3 linked regions of the Homo sapiens genome follow. The protein of the gene in region 2 purifies or fractionates together with the protein of the main gene of each other region. This does not show direct contact. Each region holds a gene or a part of one and is shown on either strand. Other genes may lie near its edges.

What was found.
Region 1: the proteins of RRN3 (region 2) and IL17RD purify together in Homo sapiens (co-immunoprecipitation; 2 studies listed by BioGRID and IntAct, with this or other methods). This does not show direct contact.
Region 3: the proteins of RRN3 (region 2) and POLR1E purify together in Homo sapiens (co-immunoprecipitation; 2 studies listed by BioGRID and IntAct, with this or other methods). This does not show direct contact.

What each region holds. Positions count from the first base shown.
Region 1 is NC_000003.12:57,161,687-57,170,205, forward strand, and holds the start of IL17RD (interleukin-17 receptor D isoform a precursor), read right to left. Parts: upstream 3,668-8,519; 5' UTR 3,601-3,667; coding exon 3,475-3,600; exon of another isoform or gene 3,282-3,474; coding exon of another isoform or gene 3,240-3,281; intron 1-3,239. UniProt on the Homo sapiens protein: Feedback inhibitor of fibroblast growth factor mediated Ras-MAPK signaling and ERK activation. Regulates the nuclear ERK signaling pathway by spatially blocking nuclear translocation of activated ERK without inhibiting cytoplasmic phosphorylation of ERK.
Region 2 is NC_000016.10:15,059,010-15,064,232, forward strand, and holds the end of RRN3 (RNA polymerase I-specific transcription initiation factor RRN3), read right to left. Parts: intron 4,275-5,223; coding exon 4,187-4,274; intron 2,897-4,186; coding exon 2,735-2,896; 3' UTR 1,024-2,734; downstream 1-1,023. UniProt on the Homo sapiens protein: Required for efficient transcription initiation by RNA polymerase I (Pol I). Required for the formation of the competent pre-initiation complex (PIC).
Region 3 is NC_000009.12:37,495,276-37,503,758, reverse strand, and holds the end of POLR1E (DNA-directed RNA polymerase I subunit RPA49), read right to left. Parts: coding exon 8,483-8,483; intron 7,870-8,482; coding exon 7,773-7,869; intron 5,669-7,772; coding exon 5,535-5,668; intron 2,920-5,534; coding exon 2,838-2,919; intron 2,047-2,837; coding exon 1,915-2,046; intron 717-1,914; coding exon 557-716; 3' UTR 62-556; downstream 1-61. UniProt on the Homo sapiens protein: Component of RNA polymerase I (Pol I), a DNA-dependent RNA polymerase which synthesizes ribosomal RNA precursors using the four ribonucleoside triphosphates as substrates.

The sequences.
Region 1 (8,519 bases), on a different chromosome or scaffold from region 2:
TTGTTCCATAAAAAGGCTTCTAGACCAGCAAGACAAGGGGAGGGAGAACTTCAGTATGAGTGACTGACACAATTAAAGTTATGAACCAAACTTGCTTCTAGTTGCAAACAAAACCATTCCACTCTAGAAGCAAGAGCCAGTGTAAATGAGGATGGTGTGGTCCCTCTGGAGGTTTTACAAATCATTACTTCTGTGTGAACACAGTATTTATTACTCAAAGAGCAACCTTACCTGGCAAGGACCCTAAGAGAATTTTTTTTAAGTAGTTGAGGAAGTGTGCCCACAACTCATTTCTAAAACACTGACCTGTGTTCAAGATGGTATCAGCCTCTTAATTGCCCCACTAATAATGGGGAGGTTGTGAAACCTGACCACTTAAACCAGGCCAGCCCATGGCTCCTCTGGGAGCAGCCCCGAAGGGTCTGTTAGCAGGGCTGCAGAGGGTTGGCTGGCTGTAGTCACCTTGCAAGTCTTGCAAAAATACACATTCCTGCAAGGGCAAGGGTTCCTGAAACAAATGTTGCCTGGAGATCAAGGGGGTCATTTGCTCAGCTCTGCTCCAGCACCTAAATCCAGTTTCTCAGGACTTGGTGCTGCACCTTGCTGCCCCCTCTCAGGTTCTGAGTATGGCCCAGGCCCACAGAAAGCCTCCTCTGATTTGCATCACATATAGTCGACCCTTATCCTTTTATGTTCCTACAGCCCCACTGTAAGCAACCTTAGAGCTGAGGCCAACATCTATGGACTAAGTACCTCTTATTTGGTAGGGGACCCAAACATGAATCAAATACTCTAGTCACTGTGTACCAGTACTTCCTAGCTGACTCCCTGACAGAGCAACTTCTAGAAGACATGACCTAGGGAGGTGTGGACAGGGACAATTTTTTGCAGAAGTGATGCTAGGGCCGAGAAAGGAAGCTGCAGAGGTGTAAAGGAACACAGGCAGGAACAGCATGTGCAAAGACAATGGACCTTGATGCCCTGATCTTTGCCTCTACTTCTTAAAATCTATCAGGAAATACAGGATTTAGCAGGAAGGCAGCAGGGTCTAATTTGGTTCAGCCAATATTTACAGGGCTCTGACGCCACCAAGATGAGGTTCAGTGCCTGGCTAAAGAAACTAGTCTGAAGACATAGAAGTGAACAAATACTGACAAAGCTGTCTGATGAGACTAAAGTGCAAGGACCTGCATGAGAAGGTAAAGCAAGGGGCATGGCATTCAGGAGGGCTTCCCTGAGGAGGTACCACCTGAACTGAGTCTTAAGATAGGCAAGGAATTCTCAAGGGAGGAAAAGGCATCCTGGGAGGAGGGAAAAGCATGTCTTGGAAGCACAGAGGGCATCCATCCGGAGTTAGGAGCAGGATGAGAAGGGTAGGGGGTGAGGCTGGAAAGGGTGGGAATGCAAAGCATGTGGGGAAACTGGGTCCATGAAATCCACCAAGCAGCAAATCCAGGAGACAAGGAACCATGTATCAGCCTGGATGAGCCTGGAATCTGGAACATGGCCCAGAGGCCTCTACGATCGTCCAGGAGGCGAATGAGGATGACCCAAGGAAACGATTGGTGGGGCCAAGGCAGGAGCAGCTGAGAAAAGTCACCCCCAACTAGGGGCTGTGGTGGAGAAAACGTCAGCATAAGTGTGAGGTGACTGGGACAGAGCCACCATTTTATGAGGGTGCAGGTTTGGGAGAGGAGAACACACTCGCACAGGTAGAAGAAAATCACCAGCCTGGCTCCGTCAGGGCACTACCATACCCCACAGCATGGAAACTTCACGAGTTTTGTACAGTGGCATAAGAAGCCACCTTGGCAACTGCAGCAAAACAGTGAATCGGACTGATTTACCTACGCCATCACATGAACACTCAAAATAAAACGCCTGTGATATTGTAGTCATTCAAAAGCCAATAGGAGTCTAAATCCAAAATTCTAGTAGGATCCTTAAGTCAACACGAGATCCTCCTTGAGGAAACTTGCTAGCTACTAAAATTTTTTTAAACAATAAAACAAGAGCAGTAATGTTTTACTGAAATGGAACACAGTAAGAAAATGTGATGCTTTACTCAACTAGGAAGGAATGACAGAGCCTAATGGGGCGGGGGGGCGGGGGGGGAAGGGGGTGGCGGGGGCGGAGGCAGAGCAGGGGTCATAGCCGTCTCCATAGCTTAGCTACTGAGTCTGAAGACATCCCAGCTGTCTGGCTCACACCTGGTTTTCTGCACCACATTTCTTGGGACTGTGGGGCAAGTGAGCTTGGAGGCACCAGCCTGCGTGCCTAAGGGAGTGTTATGTCCTAGGTTTTGGCTGTGCTGAGGCTGTTTAGAGCCACCCAGAAGAGGCTGAGTCAACGTTCGCCTAAGCAAACCACTCCATACCTATCCCTCAGCCCAGCAATACTAAGGAAATTCTCATTTCATCCCATTTTTCATATGAAGAAATTGAGGCTCATGGCTCCCCAGGAGCAGAGCCAAGGTCATGTCCCTGCTGCCTGAGTGCAAAGCCTACGTTTTCTCCACAAGCTTAAGGCCGTGAGTGCCCTGACGCCGGGCCCACCCGGGCCTCGGTGGGAGACTCGGGGCAGACGGACATCATCTCCAGGTTCTGGGGCCGCCCAAGGCCAGAAGCCCAGGTAGGGAGCAGGGAAGCTGAGAGGGGAATGGCAATCACCCGCGCCCATCGCCCAGACAGTGTCAAAGGAGCGCTCGGTTCCACGAAGACGGCTCAATGCACACGGCGAAAGTCTGGGCACCTCTCCAGTCTCGTCTCAGGCACCTCACCCAGATGACACCCACGCGGCCCTTTGGCGGAAAAATATCCGCAACTCGAAGCAGGGAAGGAGGATATCAGCCGCGAGACCTTCACAAGACGAAGGGCTGAACCGGGAGGCGAAGTTTCTCAGGAGGTCCCGGAGTCAGAGGAGGGGTAGGAGTGGGGTGACGGCCCCAGGCGAGGAGGAACAAAGCTACTAGAAGAGCGGGGCGCATCCCTCCCCGGTGCTCCAAGTCCCCTCTCCGGCCGCCCGGGCCTTAGCAGGGTTGTGGACTGAAAGTCCGGGAGAATACCCCCTTCCCTCTCCAAAGCGCAACCCGGTCCGGGTGGCTCGGGGGATCCCAGCCCGGGACACGCAGCCCTGGGACGAAGGAGGTCCCGGGCCAAGAACAAAGGGTGGGGCGCCCGGCCCAGCCCCGCCGCCCCTCACGCCCGCCCTCTGAATGGGACCCCGGCCGGCGGCCGCACCTCATTAGCAACACAAAGCCGGGGTCGGGCAGCCGCTTTCATCTCGGCCAGGGCCGGAGGACACGCGTCCGGGGAGGGAAACCAGGAGGATGCGCGGGAGGAGTGAGACCCAGGCCGGCCGCGGACCCCGCGAAGAGCAGACAGGTTGGCGCGGGCTCGCCTCCCCGCGAGCACCTGTGCGCGCTGCGTCCCCCGCGAGTTGGCGACGGCAAGAAACCCGCCGCCCTCGCCTTACCCTCCAGCCACAGGTGTCGGCGCCCCGCGCGCGGCCGGACCCGCCAGCGGCCACAGCCAGCTGCGAGCCGTTGAGGCAGGCGTTGACCGTAAAGAAGACGGAGCAGAGCTGCAGCCACGGGGCCATGGCCGTGCGCTCGCCCAGCCAGGCCGTTCTCTGCGCCCCGGCCGCCCGCCGCTGGCCAGCCCCGAGTGGGCGGTGGCCGCGGCGGCCGCGGCGGCAGCGAAGGGGACCGCACTGGGCATGCGTTGCCAGCCCGGGCCCCGCCCCCACCCTCAGTCCTCGTGTGCTGGCCCCGCCCCCACAGCCTGGCCCTCCAGTTGTGGCCCTGCCCCCGTAGACCACGCCCCTCTGGTCACGCCCCCCAAGCCCCCACTGAGACTCTGGCAGCCGCAGTTTCTTCCCCCTCACTTAGTAGATCTTTTTTTAATCCAAAGGATTTGTCCAAGTGATGCTCACTCTATGCAAAACCTGAGGAAAACACAAAGAATGTAATAATAATAATTTTAATAATAATTTAATAAACACCTGCTATGTGCCAGACCCCTTTCTGTATACGCCCAACCACACAAGGAAGTGTATTATTGTTATCCCAGTTTTAGGCGCAGAAAAGTTAGGGGAACGTGACAGAGAAATCCTGGCTCCACATTTACTAGTAGGACTTTGGACAAAAGGCTTGCTGTCTCCACAATACTTCCTCACCACAACCCCCCGTCCCCCTCACCCTCCTGGAAGCTAGAATAAGTATCCTAGTCTGGGGAGAGTTCTGTTGGTTGAAACATAACAAGTGCTCCATAAAGGCTACAATCTATCATTAACTGACTCTCATAAGGTCACACAGCTGTTACCTGCCAGACCTGAGATCCAATCCAGACCTGACTAAAAACAATACTCTCAGCTACTACACTTGTCAAACATAACCTCATGAAGTGGATATTATTTCTGTTTGGAAGAGGAAACTGAGGCTCAGAGAAGTGGAGTAGCCCAAGCTATCCAGAGTTTCACCGCACTCTTCCCAGCGCTTTGCCTTTTATCTGAGCACCTAAACTCTCCCACTTTGTCCCTCTCCACTACCCCCTTCCTCAAGAATACCACCTCCTCTTCCTAAGGGCTTTTTCTACTTCTGACTTTGTCCCCGTGTCCGATACATTTCTCCAGCCTGGATCCAAAGTTATCTTCCAAAAACACAAATCAGACTACTGACTTATCCCAATTAAAACTCTAGGCTGAGTGCAGTGGCCAATCCTAGAGGATCGCTTGAGTTCAGGAGTTAGAGGTAACAGTGAGCTATGATCCTGCCAACCGCACTGAAGCCTGAGTGACACAGTAAGACCCTGTCTCTAAAAACAAACAAACAAACAAACAAACAAACAAACCTACCACCACCACCACCAACAAAAAAAAACAGTAAAATTATGTGTTCTGTGTTTGGAGGAGGATTAATAAAAATAAAATCAATAAATAAAACTGTTCTATGGTGGCTCTTATGCAAAGGCCATTTAGAATAAAATCCATACTGGCTTTCTCTTCCACTCTGTCTTTACCACCTGGCTCCTGCTGCACAGAACTCCCCCCAGCCCCAGCCTTATCTTGGTCTTTTTGCCTCAGGAAACCTTGGAAATTGTCACCTCCGTCCATTCAACAGGGCAGCCTCCTCTATATGACTCTCCTTCCAGGGCCCAGAATCCCCTCCCTCTCCTTCTCTGGCCTGGCCTAAGCTCAGCCACTGCTAACACAGGATTCCTGCACTTTCTCTTGTGGCTTGTGTCTCCACCACCCTGCCCACACGTCCTTGGAGGGCTTAAGTGGAGGAAGAGAACTCTTCTTGGTAATGCTAGCAGAAGTCTTGGGGATTTGCTTGGAAGTAGCTACATCTAGAACCAAGGAGTAGAGCCAGCCTCACCTGAACTTCAGGGGCTGGAAGTGTGAAACAGTGCTTGCCCAAAGGAACACTGACATTATTGCCAGGGAGAGGGAGAATGGGTGCTGGGTTCCCCAAACAACAGCATCCACCTCAAGACCCAGATGCTGGGCAGAATTTTTTTTTTTTTTACCTCACTGCCTGGAATTCAGGAATTCAGCCAGACCCAGTGAGGTTTACCATACCCTCTTCAGACACCAGAATAGCTAGGATCCACAGAAGGCTGTTCTGGAGTAGCCTTCTGTGAATAGACCTCAGGAAGCACATCACTCCTTTGGAGGAGCTGCTGGTTCAGTGCCTCCCTACCCTCCCTCACATTCTTGGTACTGTCCCTGGGTTGTTCTCAGCCCCCACAGCAAGGATGTCCAGCGTTTGGCCATGAGAGTCAGGGGTGCCAGGGGCTGAGATGAGGCCAGGACCATATGGGTTTTGGTGAAACAGGGAGGAAACAATGAGGCGACCAGCTCCTTAATCTATGTGACATTCCAGCCTATACATGCTTTATAACTTATTAAACAACCCCATGCTAAGGGACATCTGTTAGAATCAGTGATTCAAAAATACCCTAACACACTTACCTTGACACATTGATTCAATGATTTTATACATTTCTAGAATCAGAATTGCTGGATTATGCACATTTAAAATTGTCAAACTGTTCATTATGGTATTATCACCATCTTAATTGGCTTCTCTGGTTGCGAATGAGGTAGATCATGTTCCTATGTATTTGTTGGCCATTTGTATTCTTTCTCTTTTTTTTTCTTTGAGACGAAGTCTCACCCTGTCACCCAGGCTAGAGTGAGTGATGCAATCTTGGCTCACTGCAACCTCCGCTTCCCAGGTTCAAGCGATTCTCCTGCCTCAGCCTCCCGAGTAGCTGGGATTACAGGCGCGCAACACTGCACCCAGCTAATTTTTTGTATTTTTAGTAGAGACGTGGTTTCACCATGTTGGTCAGGCTGGTCTCGAACTCCTAACCTCAGGTAATCTGCCTGCCTCAGCCTCACAAAGTGCTAGGATTACAGACGTGAGCCACCACTCCTGGCCCATTTGTCCTCTTTCAGGAATTGGACTCCAGGAAAAGGAGCAGTACTTAGCACTTACAAGAGAAAGAGAACCTCAAGGAGAACATTGGTTAGAGAAAACTGTTTCTCCCTGGGTTTTACTCATGTCACCATATGATTGCATGACAGGGAAGGCAGAGCCCCACTCCTGCTCCCTTTCTGTCTGCACACCCACCCACTATTGAATTCCCTCCCATCCACAGCTCACTGCAGAATCTGGCAACCGACAGCCTCTGAAAACATGCTGCAGGGTTCAGAGAGAGCACAAGCTTTCCTGAAGCCATGTGGAGGGCACAAGAAGGAAAAGCCTTAAGCGTCCAGTCTAAAACATGCCTAGAATGACATCCCTCAGGACCAGGGATGGGGAGGCCCTCCTATTTCCTTTCTAGGAAGGCCACCAGCATGTATGTGAGTGGCAGGAGAGCCACAGACACCAAAGGGTCAAATCTGGTCAGGAAATTAAGGTTGTAAATTGGCATTTGGCAACATTCTCTGTATTCTGGTCTTTCCCATTGATTCTCCCATCTCCTCCTTTCTGGTTTTTTTGTGTTGTTGTTGTTTTTGTTGTTGTTTGTTTGTTTGTTTGAGACGGAGTTTTGCCCTTGTTGCCCAGGTTGGAGTGCAATGCCATGGTCTCGGCTAATTGCAACCTCCACCTCCCAGGTTCAAGCGATTCTCCTGCTTCAGCTTCCCAAGCAGCTGGGATAACAGGTGCCTGCCACCATGCCTGGCTAATTTTTCATATTTTTAGTAGAGGTGGGGTTTCACCATGTTGGCCAGGCTGGTCTGGAACTCCTGATGCCAGGTGATCCACCCACCTCGGACTTCCAAAATGCTGGGATTAAAGGCGTGAGCCGCCGCTCCCAGTCTCCATCTCCTCTTTTTATCCCAACCCTTCAGAATAGCTGTAAGGCTGCAGGGAGTGGACCTCTCTGTCCTGGAAGCTGAGCTAAAATGAGGGGACCAGGCCCCACATGCCTTTCATGGATCACAGTTTCCTCCAGGCCACAGTGGAGCTCAGCTGTGGAGGTGACCAGAAGATGAGCTAGGGAAACCCTCCCTCAATACAACACTTGGTCTCACCTGCCAAGGCCAGGATTGCCTGTAGTCCAGTCACACTTTCAGCCACTCCTCGTGGTGAGAGGTGGCTGTCATCTGATTCACCTCTGCCCCCATGCCTAGCACTCTGTCTGGCACGCTTCAGTGGGCAAGAGACTGTCACCACCTCCCCCTCTTTGGAACAAAGCTGAGAATTAAACAGATAAAATCACCTTAAAATAAGCTGTTGATGAAATGTAAATATATTTTCCCACTCTAATTATAACCTAGCCAGATAAGAAAAATCCTTAACGCAAGGATTGGATTTTGTTAGGGGTCAAATTATCCCGTGAAACATAAAAAAAGATAAAGTGATGGTGGAAGTAATTTGTATCATGAATCATTTTGAGCAGGGAATAACTAAATACTATTTTAATGAACAGTGTTAGAAGCAGTCGGCCCAAATTCTAATTTATTTTGGTATTGTGAGAAATTAGTGTATGTTTTCTGTATTAATAAAGACATTAAAGGTAAAGAGTGTCACTGTACCCCTGACCCCAGTCTCCCAGAGGGCTGAGGGTGCAAGGTTTCCCAGGCTTTGGAGGGAGCAGTATGTGGAGAACTGGTACCCACCTGCAAGCCCTTAGTCCCTGAGACCCCACAAGACTGCCTGGATGTCAATCAGGCTACCTGGCAGTCTTGGCTCCAATGGGGTAGGCGTCATCATCCCCACTGCACAGATGGGGAAGCTGATGCTCAGCGAGGGGAAGTCTGCTCGCGGTCACAGAGCTGGGGTTCAAACCGGACCCCGATCGCCTGGCCTGGGACCGCCTTGCCTGGGACGAAAGGCCCCAGACTCAGCTGATTCCTCCAGACTCTTCCTGTCTAGGACGCCAAAAACATGGCCTTCCTAAACCCAGCCTTGGCGCCTCCTGCACAGCCCAGAGACCCAGGGCGGCGGACAACAGAAAACCTGGGGCGGCGGACCCAACCCTGCGCCCAGAAATCCCAGGACGCCC
Region 2 (5,223 bases):
GAAAACATGGTGGAGCTTTGGATGTTCAATTAGTTGAAACAAGAAAAGTATGCAGTTGTACACCAATGAACAGTTCTCAAGGCAGCCTGCACCTTCGAATCACCAGGGGGCTTTAAAAACCATCCATGTCCAGACCCCTCTTCTGGAGACTGATTCAATCAAAGGTTGAGTTGGTGTGTGACGTGAGCCTGGGCATCCTTAGTTTCTCAGCACTCCAAGGGACTGATTCTAGGGCACAGCCAGGGTTAAGAACCACCATCGTAAGCACTGCCCGGCAAGGGAAACACGCTGGTTCCTCCTCTCCAGTTCAGATCTAAGTTGGTACCAGGGAGGTAGGTATTATGGAAGAAATAGAAGTTATCTTTAACCAAAAAAAACTTCCCATGGAAGTGCTTCCTTTCTTGCAAGAAAACAACAGCCATTAACTTGTACATGCATCGAATCCTTAAAGCCTTACACTAGTATCTTATTCCCATTTTACAGTTTAATTAGCGCTCAGAGAGGTTAGGTAACTTGCTCAACGTCAAACAGCTAGCTAGGAAAGGAAGCCCATGGCACTTGGTAAGTTGACTTGTAAAAATTCAGCCACTTCTCATCAAGGAAGACCAAACCAGAGCACACAGACAAAAGGACAGACCCTGGAGACTCCTACAACTGACAGCTTTTTAGTGAAAGGAAAAATTCCCATTGTTGGCATGTAATTTATAAGGAGATTTCACAGTATTTTTCCCCATAGATGTCCCTTCAAAGCATGTAACTTTTTGAAAGAAGTGTCTGCTTCCCTTGGACCTGCTCAAGCCTCAATCACTCTTTGCTGGGTGTGATTAAGGAGAGTCGCGGATACTTCATATAGTGCACACGGAAACCATCCTCACCCCGGCATGCAATGAATTCCATCAAGCTCCCCGCCACACCAGCACTATTTCTCCCTCTTCAACAGCAATGCCTCAGGAGTTTTCCACTGCAAAATGCTTTAATACATTAAATTAAAAAAAAAAAAACAAAACAGAAATTGAAAGAACATGTATTGAGGTACCTTTTATTGGTATAAGAACGTAAGTTCCAGATTAACCATGTCATTGTTTCATTTTCACCATGGATTTTTTTTCACAAACTCCTTTGAAATTAAACAGACTTATATGTAAATGTCTTTCTACATTAAAACTACTTCCCAACCCACAAAGACCCCACTTACTACTAATTTCTGGGGAATTTCGTTTACTCGTTTTATCTAATATTAAAAAATCAACATTTTGCCAGCAGTTAAAAAGACAACCTTAAAGTTCTCAAATTACTTTCCACCAAACCCGGAAAAGAAAACCACCCATATCCAAAACTTTAAAGCAATAAAAATTTCTATTTTCCAAAAAAGTATTTACAGACTGAAATTCAAACTCTACATTGCCATCAATGTAATTATACAAGTGCATACAAAGCCCTGGAAAAGAGGAAGTATTTCATTACAAAATATTTATGATCAAGAAAATATTGCTTGCCTTTAAATAAAGTGGCAGAAAATAAATATGCTTAAAGATGGCCATTTTCACAAGTAAACAAAAAAGTACACATGTAAGAAACAAAGTGAAAATGCTTGAGCTTCAAAATGACTCTAGCAGTGTTTGCACAAATTTGTTTTAAAGCGAGGTCTTCTGAAGACTTCCTCTGTTTAGTTATAAAAATACAAAAAGAGGCTTTAGAGAAGGATTTCACCAAGCCGAATGTGCGATGCACACAGCCATCAGACCAAGACTGCACTAGCAACTTCCACCTATTGTTGTGAGCAAAACCGTACACCAAATAATCTAAAAAAATTTTCCTGTTTCCAACAAAGAAATTCCCAATAACTAAGTGATGCAGATCAAAACTGACTCGATCTAATGGCCACCAAGGAGCAGTTCTAGATCTAAGGGGACACTTGAGAGCCAAGGGGTCAAATCCAATCTCATGTGTTTTACACAAGCCCGAACTCACTTTCAGTCTGTGTGAATTACATCTACCTGGACCTCCATTTTTGTCTTTTAAATCCATTTTTTCGCTGTGCCAAGTATATTACACATCTGATTCTGTTTCCCTATATCCTCTCTCTCTTCCCTATGGGCTTTTATTGGTCTCTGAAGTCCCTGGAGATCTTCAGTGCCAGCTCCAACTCTGTGTCCCAGACCATGTCGGGCCAGCTCTCAGCTTTCCTTCTGTCTTCTCTACACTCCCTTGAAATCCCAACAGACAAATACCAATACAGCAGAAGGTGAACAATGTAGCCAAAATAAACACTTTCTAGTTAAAGTCTTTAAATAGAAGTTTTATCTTAGAGGATTCTTCACTGAAAGCTCATCAGTCAAGTCCTAAGACCATGGATCTGACAAAAACCCATGTTAAAACAGCAACCCGTAAAACAGTCTGCTGCCTATATTAGAAATTACCCAGTAATTGTGTCAAAAAGCTGTTAACACAAAAAATGTACATATTAAACAAGCAAATCCTTCCAAATGTATCATCAACCCCACTGTAAAAGATTGCACATGATAGTCTTCATTTTGTCTGTAAGGGGAACAACAACAACAAAAAAACCCAGTCTTCAGATGCTTGATTCAGTCGAACCTGGAAGTGCCACAGCCGAGGCAGGCACTCGCTCTAGTTCAATGCCATCAATGCCCAATGGCACAAGCTGGGTGCTGAGGGCATGACAAGTGATGGGGAATCCCAAATGTCACATCTCAGTCACAAATTTCTGCCGTCAGAGGGGACTGGGTTGCATGTACAACACGGGTGGGGAGCCCACACTACTTGAAGGACTTCGGAAATGCGTGTCAAAGGAGCTTGGTGTGATCCCAATCACGGTATCATTCTGGGGCACTTCGCCTTTCAGAAAGTCATCATCTTCATCTTCCACTATGTCCTGCAGAAACATCAGAAATCATCAGTAACATCACCAGTGCTGACTGAAAAGCTTTCAACAATTCCTTCCTCAGGAAGGTGTTAACGTTTGTAAAGATGGTGAAGAAAATATCTTAATTTCAAAAGAAAGCCAGTGTAGTGGCACACGCCTGTAGTCCCAGCTACTCAGGAGGTGGAGGTGGGAGGACTGCTTGAGCTCAAGAGTTCCGAATCCAGCCTGGGCAACATAGCGAGACCATGTCTCTAGAAAAACAGAACAGAACAAAAGCTCCCTCTGATAAGCACTTCCTTCTTACCAACATACCCACATAACTGCTCATCACACATTGTAATCATTTGTTTCAAGTCTGACTTGCAAACAGATTTGAAGCTCAATGGGGACAGGAAACATGACGAGTCATTCTTGCCCAGTGTTAGGAACTCTTGTACCTAACACAATGTGAATGAATTACACGCCCCTCAACAAATGAAACATAAAGAAAAAGATGAAAGGGGCTTTCCAATGATTACTTATTAAAAACAACAACAAAAAAGCCATCTTGAAGCTGCTTTTAATGAGAAAACAAATGTGCTCCCAAGCAACAGAGCAGCGAAATTCTTTATTACTGGATTCTAACTTTCCTCTCTAACTGTAACTGTCTCAGCTCCACCTCATGTGACCTGGAGGGTATGTTGCAACCTGCGTCTTCACCACCCATTCATGAAGATCTATAAAACTAATGTAAACTGCTGGGGCAATTTCAACATGAGTCAACTGGAGATTGTTACTTGGTAAGAATGCGCAAGTGGCAAAGATCTAAATTCATTCAGCTAATTTGTAATTAACCTTCGCTTCTCACATGTCAGTATGTGAAGTGTCTGGTTTAAGCAATTTATCCAAAAAAGCCATAGACTCTTTAAATAACAACAAAACCTGGGCCTGGAATTTTATAAAGGCAGAATGAGTAAGACACGGTTTTGGTGTGCTTTTTTAAAGAAAACAGGGTCTTGCTCTGTTGCCCAGGATGAAGTGCCATGCTGCATTTACAGCTCACTGCAGCCTTGACCTCCCACCTCAGCTTCCAGAGGAGCTGGGATTACAGGTGTGCACCACCACGCCCAGCTAATTAAAAAAATTTTTGTAGAAACAGGGTGTCACTGTGTTGCCCAGGCTGGTCTCCAGCAATCCTCTGGCCTTGACCCCCTAAAGTGCGGGGATTACACGCACGAACGACTTGCCACTTACTATCTCACTGTGACCTGGAACCAGAAAGGAGATTCCGAGAGTGTGCTCAATCAATCACAAACTGACCTTTTTCATGGGTTTCTTGAACTCCTGTAGCTCTTCAGCACTCATGTCTTCCCACACCTGATAAATAGGATCAATGAATTTCTTTGACCTGTCAACAAAGATCACATTTCAAAGTCAAGTTAAATACTTCGGCAGAAGTCAAAATTGGTTTGGATCTTTTCTCACAAGATCTATTACCCAAAACCAAGAAGTGAAAACTACAGCTTAAATAATTACATTTAAAAAAAACCTGGCTGGGTGCAGTGGCTCACGCCTGTAATCCCAGCACTTTGGGAGGCTGAGGTGGGCAGATCATGAGGTCAGGAGATCGAGACCATCCTGGCTAACACGGTGAAACCCCATCTCTACTAAAAATACAAAAAATTAGCCGGGTGTGGTGGCGGACACCTGTAGTCCCAGCTACTCGGGAGGCTGAGGCAGAATGGCCTGAACCTGGGAGACGGAGCTTGCAGCGAGCCGAGATCGCGCCACTGCACTCCAGCCTGGGAGACAGAGCAAGACTCTGTCTCAAAAAAAAAAAAAAAAAAGAAAAAAACAAAACAAAAAAACAACCCTCTATGTAAATGCTGTAACTAATGTGGCTCTTTCTGTATAAGAGTTCATTCACTCATGTCGATGGAGTATTGAACTACCGTTTTTCATCTTTCCATTTTCATGTGAAATTGTTTCTAAACTTTACAAAGACTCACAAGTCAGTTAGATACAGTATATCCAAATGGAAATGAAACCGTAATATTCTGGAACTCTCTTTTTTATATTTCTGTAGTAATTTGCTGAAAAGTAAGTCTAGGAAAAACAACTAATCTGGTTTCAGTCAACCAAGACTTCAGGGACCAGACAATCCCAGATGGTCATGATGCTGCTAGTTATTTTAGAAACCATAATAAGCAAAAATCCTGCTTCCTTATACAAGTGCCAAGTTAAGGCTGGCCCAGTGGTTTTCTAGAACAACTCATCTAGATAAATCGCTTTTTGTTTTTTTTTTGTTTTGTTTTTCTGAGACAGAGTCTCACTCTCTCGCCCAGGCTGGAGTGCAT
Region 3 (8,483 bases), on a different chromosome or scaffold from region 2:
TGAACCAACATGAGAAACATCTGCCATTTATAATCACAGCAATAATACCAAAGGAGAGAGATGAAGTCCAACCTGGCCATCGCTTTATATTTCTGCATAAGACAAGCACAGTTGAGATGCTGGCTTCTGGCTTCATACCTGTGCTAAAGCAAGGCTTCTTTTTTCCTTATGTTACTTTTTTGAGACAAGGTCTCACTCTGTGACCCAGGATGGAGTGTGGCCACACAATCATAGCTCACTGCAACCTTGATTTCCCAAGCTCAAGTAATCGTCCTGCCTCAGCCTCCCGAGTAGCTGGGATTACAGGCGCACACCACCAGGCCTGACTCTTTTTTTTTTCCTCCGGTAGAGATGGGGTCTCCCTATGTTGTCCAGACTGGTTTCAAACTCCTGAGCTCAATGATCTTCCTGCCTCGGCCTCCCAAAGTGCTGGGATTTCAGGTGTGAGCCACCATCCCCGGACCTTTTCTTTTCAAAACATACATAAAAATGGAAATGAATAGGACCAGCCAGTGGCTGTGATGCAGCCAAAACGCCCTGTCTGGAAAGCATGCGTCTAGGTAATCTTCCTCCGCTTTGCCAGGCGGTCTGAGGTCTGGGCTGGAGGCAGCGGGAGGGACAGGGTGCCCAGCTTGTGATCTTCTTCACTGCCGGCGGCCACAGACACCCTTCTTTTGGAGATCTTCAGCCTCATGGCTTTGGCTATCTCCATCATCCTAAGGAAGACATAAACAGAAGAACTGGAGAGACCCCTCAACATGACTGTTCAGGGAGGTTTGGCAAAAGGTAGCAGCACATTCATGCTCCAGGCCATAAAGACAGAATCCCAAAGGTTGCCAGCAGGCACAAAGCCCCTGGCAGAGAGGCAGGCAAGGTCCCCTCACCCGCTGGGAACCATCAGACAGCCAATTTCATTTTAATGCCCTTCAAAAGATCCATATGGGTGATGAAAAACCAGGGTATCTACAGCCCCGTGAGCAACTTTCTTTACCTCCCATAACCAAACTTTTAGCAACCAGGATTGAGCACTTGCTAGAATCTGACAGGTTCCAAGTACCTGTTCTCTTTTTTTCAGCCTCACTGCCTGTGGGAACACAGTTTGTGGACAGCCCTCAGAACAGTCCCTCCACGGACTGCTAGAGAGTCCAGACAGAGGTGTGTTCACAGGCTCTCCTAGACACCCTCTGGGCCACTGGATGTCAGATGCCCCTAAATCACTGACAAAGATCAGCTGACCTCACAGTTCAGGTTCCTGGGCAGCTCTGCCCCTACTGTCTGAATCTCCTCTACAAGGCTAGATGGAGCCTAAAAGGTCACCTCCACCACCAGCTCTCCCAGTTGGGTCAGAGAAGTGCAAACATAAAATCCCTGCCAAACAGCAGTTCCACCTGGCCTTGGAACCAGCGGTTCCCCTGGCAAACCCTTCCATCTGATTGTGAGGAAGCTCTTCTTACTAAGCTCAAATTGGGTTGTCCTACAACTTCCACCCTGAGCTGCACTCCTCAGAACCATACAGAATCCCTCTCCCCTGTGACAGCAATTCAGAGAATGGAGGCTGCCTGGTTATTCAGAACAGAATGTTATGGAAAGGCTCAGGTCTCAAGGCCAACTACTCCCCTCTTGGTTGTGTAACCTTGAGAATGTTACGTACTTTTCTGAGCCTGATTCTTCAATTGTTTTCTAGGGAAATCAGTGAGATAATGACATAATTTATCTAGCACAGAGAAGGCACTCAGTAATGTCTAGTTGCTCATTCAGTCAATGATTCATTCATTGAAAATAGTCCTTTAGTTCCAAGTTGTTCCCACATTTAAACATCCTCAGTTCCCTTGGTGGTGCCTCATGCTTTCCAGTGGTACCAGAAATAAGACATCGAGACACCCTGCAGGGAGCTCTTTATTCTGTTGTGCTCACCTTTTCTCACTGAGCTTCAAGTCCCTCTGTAACACTGTCAGGTCAATTTGGAAGTCATGTATGTGCAAGGCAAGTATGATCACATATGCAGTAATCTTCGCCTTCATAGAATCCGAAATTAAGTTCCGTAATCTAGAAAATCAGTGGCAATAAAGGAGAAACAAAATTAAACTCTCAGACAATTTCTCCAAAAGCAAAATAAGAACATCCAATCCTATTCTCATATGCACGGAATGTCTTCCCAACTTCAGGAAAGGAAAAGGAATGTGGGTGACTTTGCCCTTCCAAGGTTCCTGGGCCTCACACACAGTGGAGCAGTGTGCCAGTCCATGTTTCCCTCTGAGGCAGATAGAGAAAGCTGGGCCTACACTCTACCTGGGCACTGCTAGCGCTTTGAGCTGGTGAGGGCCCTGTGAGTCTGTCCCCGCCTGCCCAGCAGGGCTGCTGGGAAAACAATCATCCCGAAATCAGCTGTGCTGATTCTTCCAAGCACACTCAAGAGCAGAAAACACACGCCATGCAAATGGCAGGAAGGAAGCCCAGGGGCAGGGCCTGCGGGTCTTTCCCCAGAGTCACCGAGTTGGGCTGCCCTTTTCTGCAATGCTGCCTTTCCGCAGAACACCAGCTCTGTGAGACATCGGGAAGGGCTATTCAAAAGTATGTGAAGTAAAACAAGTCTTTATTGTAGGACTTCCCAGAGCTTCTAAGGTTCCCAAAAGGTAATACTTTTCTAAGAAGGGCAGAGTATGTCATATTTAGCATTTGCTAAACTTACTGGGGCCCCAGGAGCCTTCCAAATGGCAGCAGTCTTTTCAGCACTGCATCTCCGTGGACATGGAATTGAGTCCAAGCCCCTGCTCCTCACTCCCAACCCCCACCTACTTTCTCCTGCACAAGAAAAATCCCAGCAACCACCCCCTGACCTGCCATTGTTGTAGGTCAAGCAAGTAAAGTGCTTCAGCAGTTTGGTGTTGATGATGTGGGGAACTCCAGGTCCCAGAGCACCTACAACACAAAGTTGAGTTTGATCATTTTCTCTCAAAACCCTCAGGCCACACCTCAACCATGAGCTAAGAGAAAAGGCCAACAGCTGGGCCACTGCAATGACCAGAACCAGGTGGTAAGAGAAGCAGGGCCCACACAAAGCAGAACAGCCACATCAAAATGAAAACATGCTTGGTGTGCTGCAGCCTGCAGTTTGCCCTGCACGAGAGATGCTGGTGATGGGGCAATGACAAGAAAACACAGCCTGAGGCCTAAGGACCCAGAGTTAACATGACCTTAGAAAACAAAAATTGTGCTGAAAGCTCAGGGAGAGAGGGGGAAAGGTGGAATTGGAATGTGAAAATAAGAACTAAGTGGCCAGGCGCGGTGGCTCACGCCTGTAATCCCAACACTTTGGGAGGCCGAGGCAGGCAGAACACCTGAGGTCAGGAGTTCAAGACCAGCCTGACCAACATGGTGAAACCCCATCTCTACTAAAAACACAAAAATTAGCCAGGTATGGTGGCGCAAACCTCTAATCCCAGCTACTTGGGAGGCTGAGGCAGGACAATTGCTTGAACCCAGGAGGCAGAGGTTGCAGTGGGCCAAGATTGCGCCACTGCACCCTAGCCTGGGCAATAGAGTGAGACTCCATCTCAAAAAAACAAAACAAAACAAAACAAAACAAAACAAAACAAAACAAAAAACAACTGGCTGGGCATAGTGGCTCACACTTGTAACCCCAGCACTTTAGGAGACCAAGGCAGGCAGATCATGAGGTGAGGAGTTCGAGACCAGCCTGACCAACATGGTGAAACCCCGTCTCTACTAAAAATACAAAAATTAGCCGGGTGTGGTGGCGGGCGCCTATAATCCCAGCTACTCAGGAGGCTGAGGCAGGAGAATCCCTTGAACCCAGTAGGTGGAGGTTGCAGGGAGCCGAGATCGAGCCACTGCACTCCAGCCTGGGCGACAGAGCGAGACTCTGTCTCAAAAAAAGAAAAAAAAAAAAGAACTAAGCAAATACAAGCTGGGTGCAGTAGCTCACGCCTGTAATCCCAGCCAGCATTGTGGGAGGCCAAGGAGGGTGGATCACCTGAGGTCAGGTGTTCGAGACCAGCCTGGCCAACATGGAAAAACCCCGTCTCTACTAAAAACACAAAAATTAGCTGGGCGTGGTGGTGCCCGCCTGTAATCCCAGCTACTCGGGAGGCTGAGGCAGAATTGCTTGAACCCAGGAGATGGAGGTTGTAGTGAGCCAAGATCATGGGACTGCACTCCAGTCTGGGTGACAGAGCGAGATACTGTCTCAAAAAAAACAAAACAAAAACAAAACAAAAAAACAACAAAAAAAGCATGACTAAGCAAATACAGTCATGTCCCACATTACAGTGTTTTGGTCAATGACAGGCCACATATGTGACAGTGGTCCCATAAGATTTTTTTCACACAGGGTCTTGCTGTCACCGAGGCAGTGGTGCAATCATAGCTCATTGTAACCTTGAACTCCTAGGCTCAAACACTCTTCCTGCTTCAGCCTCCCAAATAGCTGGGAATACAGGCGTGCACCACCCCAGCTAATGTTTTTATTTTTGTGTAGAGACAGTGTCTTGGTATGTTGCCCAGGCTGGTCTCAAACTCCTGCCCTGAAGTGATCCTCTCACCTTGGCCTCTCAAAGTGCTGAGATATAGGCATGACCCACCATGCCCAGCCAGTCCCGTAAGATTATAATATCATAGTTTTACTATTCCTTTTCTGTTTAGATATATTTAGATATACAAATACCATTGTGTTACAATTGCCTATAATATTCAGTATAGTAACATGCTGTATAGGTTTGCAGCCTAGGAACAGCAGCTTATAGCATATAGCCTAGGTGTGTAGTAGGCTATACCATCTAGGTTTATGTAAATATACTCTATGATGTTTGTACAATGACAAAATTGCCTAAGGATACATTTCTCAGAACATATCCCCATCATTAAGCGACACATGACTATACTGAAAAACAGGAGTATAGACTACTGGATGCCCAATCACAGTAACAACAACTAAATACACCTTGTGCCTAAAACCACAGACATCTTCTGGGTTTCCAACTCTGGGTAGGTATGAGGGTGTGACCCGCAAAGGATCCTAGCTACAGGTGACACTGGGTTACCATCAGATTGACTCTCTCCTGTTAGAAATAAGCTGACACAACACAAACCTGCCACAAGCCTTCAAGATACATCTGTGTAACTCATAAGCTCTCTCTATATATACACACACACACGCACACACGTGGCTGATGTTTGTTCTAACAGTCCCTTAAAGTTTTCCTTTTATTTGACCTGGATATTCTACTTTGCCTCATGCAGAATAGAAGTAGCAAATGTTAGCTCTGGAAGGACCCTGAACTATCATATAATCCAACGTGGCCCCAATTTTCAGATGAGAAAATGGGAGATCCAGAGAGAAAAAGGGGCCTGGCAAGTCCCCTCGACATGTCAGCAGTACCAGAATGAATCTCACAGTTGACAGTAAAGACTTGGACAGACATATCCATTTTCTTCTCTCATCAGAACTCATCTAAGAATTACAGACAAATAATATACTGGAAACAATTAGAATAAAATGTTTATCATAGACTTACTTTTCCGCTTAACTACCCTATGAGCTCGAAATTTGATGAGGGTATCCAGAAACCATATGCATCGGGCCTGGCGGTCTCGGCTCTCCACATCTGATGGCAAAGACTTCAACGCTTCTATGACAAAGGTGCAATGGCTAAAACAAGGAAAAGAAAAGGAGGCCTGTGTCAGGGTAAGATGGGCTCTGTCAGGAACTACTTCCCTCTTACAACGAGAACAGCAGGCGCCTCTCACCCCGACGCACTCAACAGCTGATGAAACCCTGGGCAACAAGGCAAGACCCCATCTCTACAAAAACGTAGCCGGCATGGTGGCACATGTGTGTGGTCCCAGCTACTCGGAAGGCTGAGGCGGGAGGATCACTTGAGCCCAGGAGGTCGAGGCTCCAGTGAGCTGTCTGCGCCACTGTACTCCAGCCTAGGTGACAGAGCAAGACCCTGTCTCAGAAACAAAAAAAAACAAACGAACAAAAGCAGCTGATGAAGGGCCAGTACACTCAACACTCCTTATAATAGGAGAACATGGTTCAGTGCAGGGATGAATAAAGGGCTAGACAGTAAATATTTTAGGCTTTGGAGGCCATACAACCTCTGTTGCAACTACTTGACTCTGCCATCGTAGTGCGAAAGCAGGCACAGATATTACTTACGTAAATGAACAGGGCTGTGCTCCAATAAAACTTTATTTATACTTTACTTACTCACAGGCAGCAGGCCAGACTTGGCATGTGGGCTGTAGTTTGCTAACCTCTGACCTCTGTTTTTATAGTCAGGAGCATAGACTCTGTAGTCAGCCTGCCTGGGTTTCAATCCTTTCTCTGCCATTTAATGGTTTAGGCAAGTTTCTTTTTTTGTTTGTTTGTTTGTTTGTTTGAGACTGAGTCTCACTCTGTGGCCCAGGCTGGAGTGCAATGGCGCAATCTTGGCTCACCGCAACCTCCGCTTCCTGGGTTCAAGCGATTCTCCTGCCTCAGTCTCCTGAGTAGCTGGGATTACAGGCATGCACCACCACGCCCAGCTAACTTTGTATTTTTAGTAGAGATGAGGTTTCTCCATGTTGGTCACGCTGGTCTTGAACTCCCGACCTCAGGTGATCTGCCCGACTCAGTCTCCCAAAGTGCTGGGATTACAGGTGTGAGCCACCGTGCCCAGCGGGGCAAGTTTCTTGGTATCTGGTGCCCTGGTTTCTCCATCTATAAATTGGGGCCAATGATAGTACAGGTACTCTCCTCCTGAGCATTTTTTCTGGATTAAGAGATGATGCCAGTAAAGCTCTTAGAACAGTGCTTGGCAAAAATGTTAAGGCTCAGTCAATGCTAACTATTATTTTCAGGCACTGCTCTACTGCTAGCAAGACCCTGGACTCACAGAGATAAAAAGGCTCTTCAAGATCATCTCATAGATGCCTCATTTTACAGATAGAAAAACTGAGGCTTCAAGAAGGGAAGATAAGGGCAGAGTTCGGGGACTCAGTTTTCAGACTCCCCGCTCAGAGTTCGTTCCTGCACCTGCCCCTGAGTCACAATCACATTAAGACAACTATGAACTAGTAATGAGCTCTTTTTTGGAAATAAATCTTTGAAGCAAAAAAAAAAAAAAAAAAAGAAATAATAATAATAATTCCAAGGCACTGGATTTCAATGACCAGTAAAATTTTAAAACAAAAACTGGAGGAACAAACCTCAGATTGACAACTCTTTATCAAAATAAAATTATTAAAAGAAAAAACTCAAAAGCAAAAAAAACTCACTATCATAAAAGAAGCTGTTTTAATGGGAAAGGGGAGGGAGAAGGAAATAATCTCTGAATTATTTAAAATATACAATATTTTAAATACATAAATTTAATGTTAGAAAAGTTTGCCTACCATATCATCACAGAGAAACCATCACTTTGGCCAGCACCCATTCCCAGGCCAGCATTTGGGCCCTGCCAGTGACAATCAGCACCAGCATGACACTGGGTGACACAGGCCAGCTCTAGTTCCCAGCCCCAGAGTAGAAGGCCTCACCACCCTCTGCCCTGTCGCAGGTCCCACGGACTCAGAGACCAGCCCTCTCCCTCGAATGTGACCCACAGCTCCTGAAAGCCCAAACATTCAAGAAAACACTGGCTCATTCATGTCCAATGCTCCAGACACACTTCCTCACTGACTGACGCCCAGAGGACCTGCACAGTGTCTGACTACTGTTGGGTCCCAACAGCACTCCCCAGAATCCCCATCTGCTTAAGTCAGGGTACCTGTTCTCCTCAATCATCTTCAGTATTTCTTCTGACGTGACGTTCCTGAAAGCTTCAGATGGGCTCTGAAGAGCTTCATACTCCGCAGGGGAAAGAACTAGTTACAGGTCAAGAATATAATCCAACCAAAATAGAAACATCCAACTAGCTAGGTCATCTCATAGCAGTGGCATTTCACAGACAGGGAAACAGGCTCAGAGAGCCAAAGATCACACAGGGCAGATCACATAGGGGCAGAGCTTGGTGACTCAGTTCTCCGACTCCCAGCCCAGAGCCCATTCCCTGCCCAGGCTTTTCTGCTTTTTCTCATCACAAAGCCACTGCAGGCATTTTCCTTCTGACCGGACCCCTTGGGTGGTGAAATTCTAAGCTCCAACCCTTCCTTCAACAAAAGTGGTCTGCCCTAGACTTTGGGCATTTGGCTGGTTCAACTCTTATTTTGACTCTCCATGGAGAGTGAGCCCCACAGGTCTAAGCTGTGGGCATTTGGCATTTTGCTGAGGAATGGATTTGAATCCCAGGGGCCGGTCCCTCAGCTAGTGAGGAAGCCAAGTTAACCTCCTGGCAAGAGCACTGAGCAACTGCAAAGGTTTGGATGGAGCTCTTGTGAATGTCACAGAACACAGACACCCTCAGAGAACCTGACTGCACACACGTGCAAACATCTCAACTTGTGAAATAAGGCAGCTTTTCTACTGCAAGAAGGATACG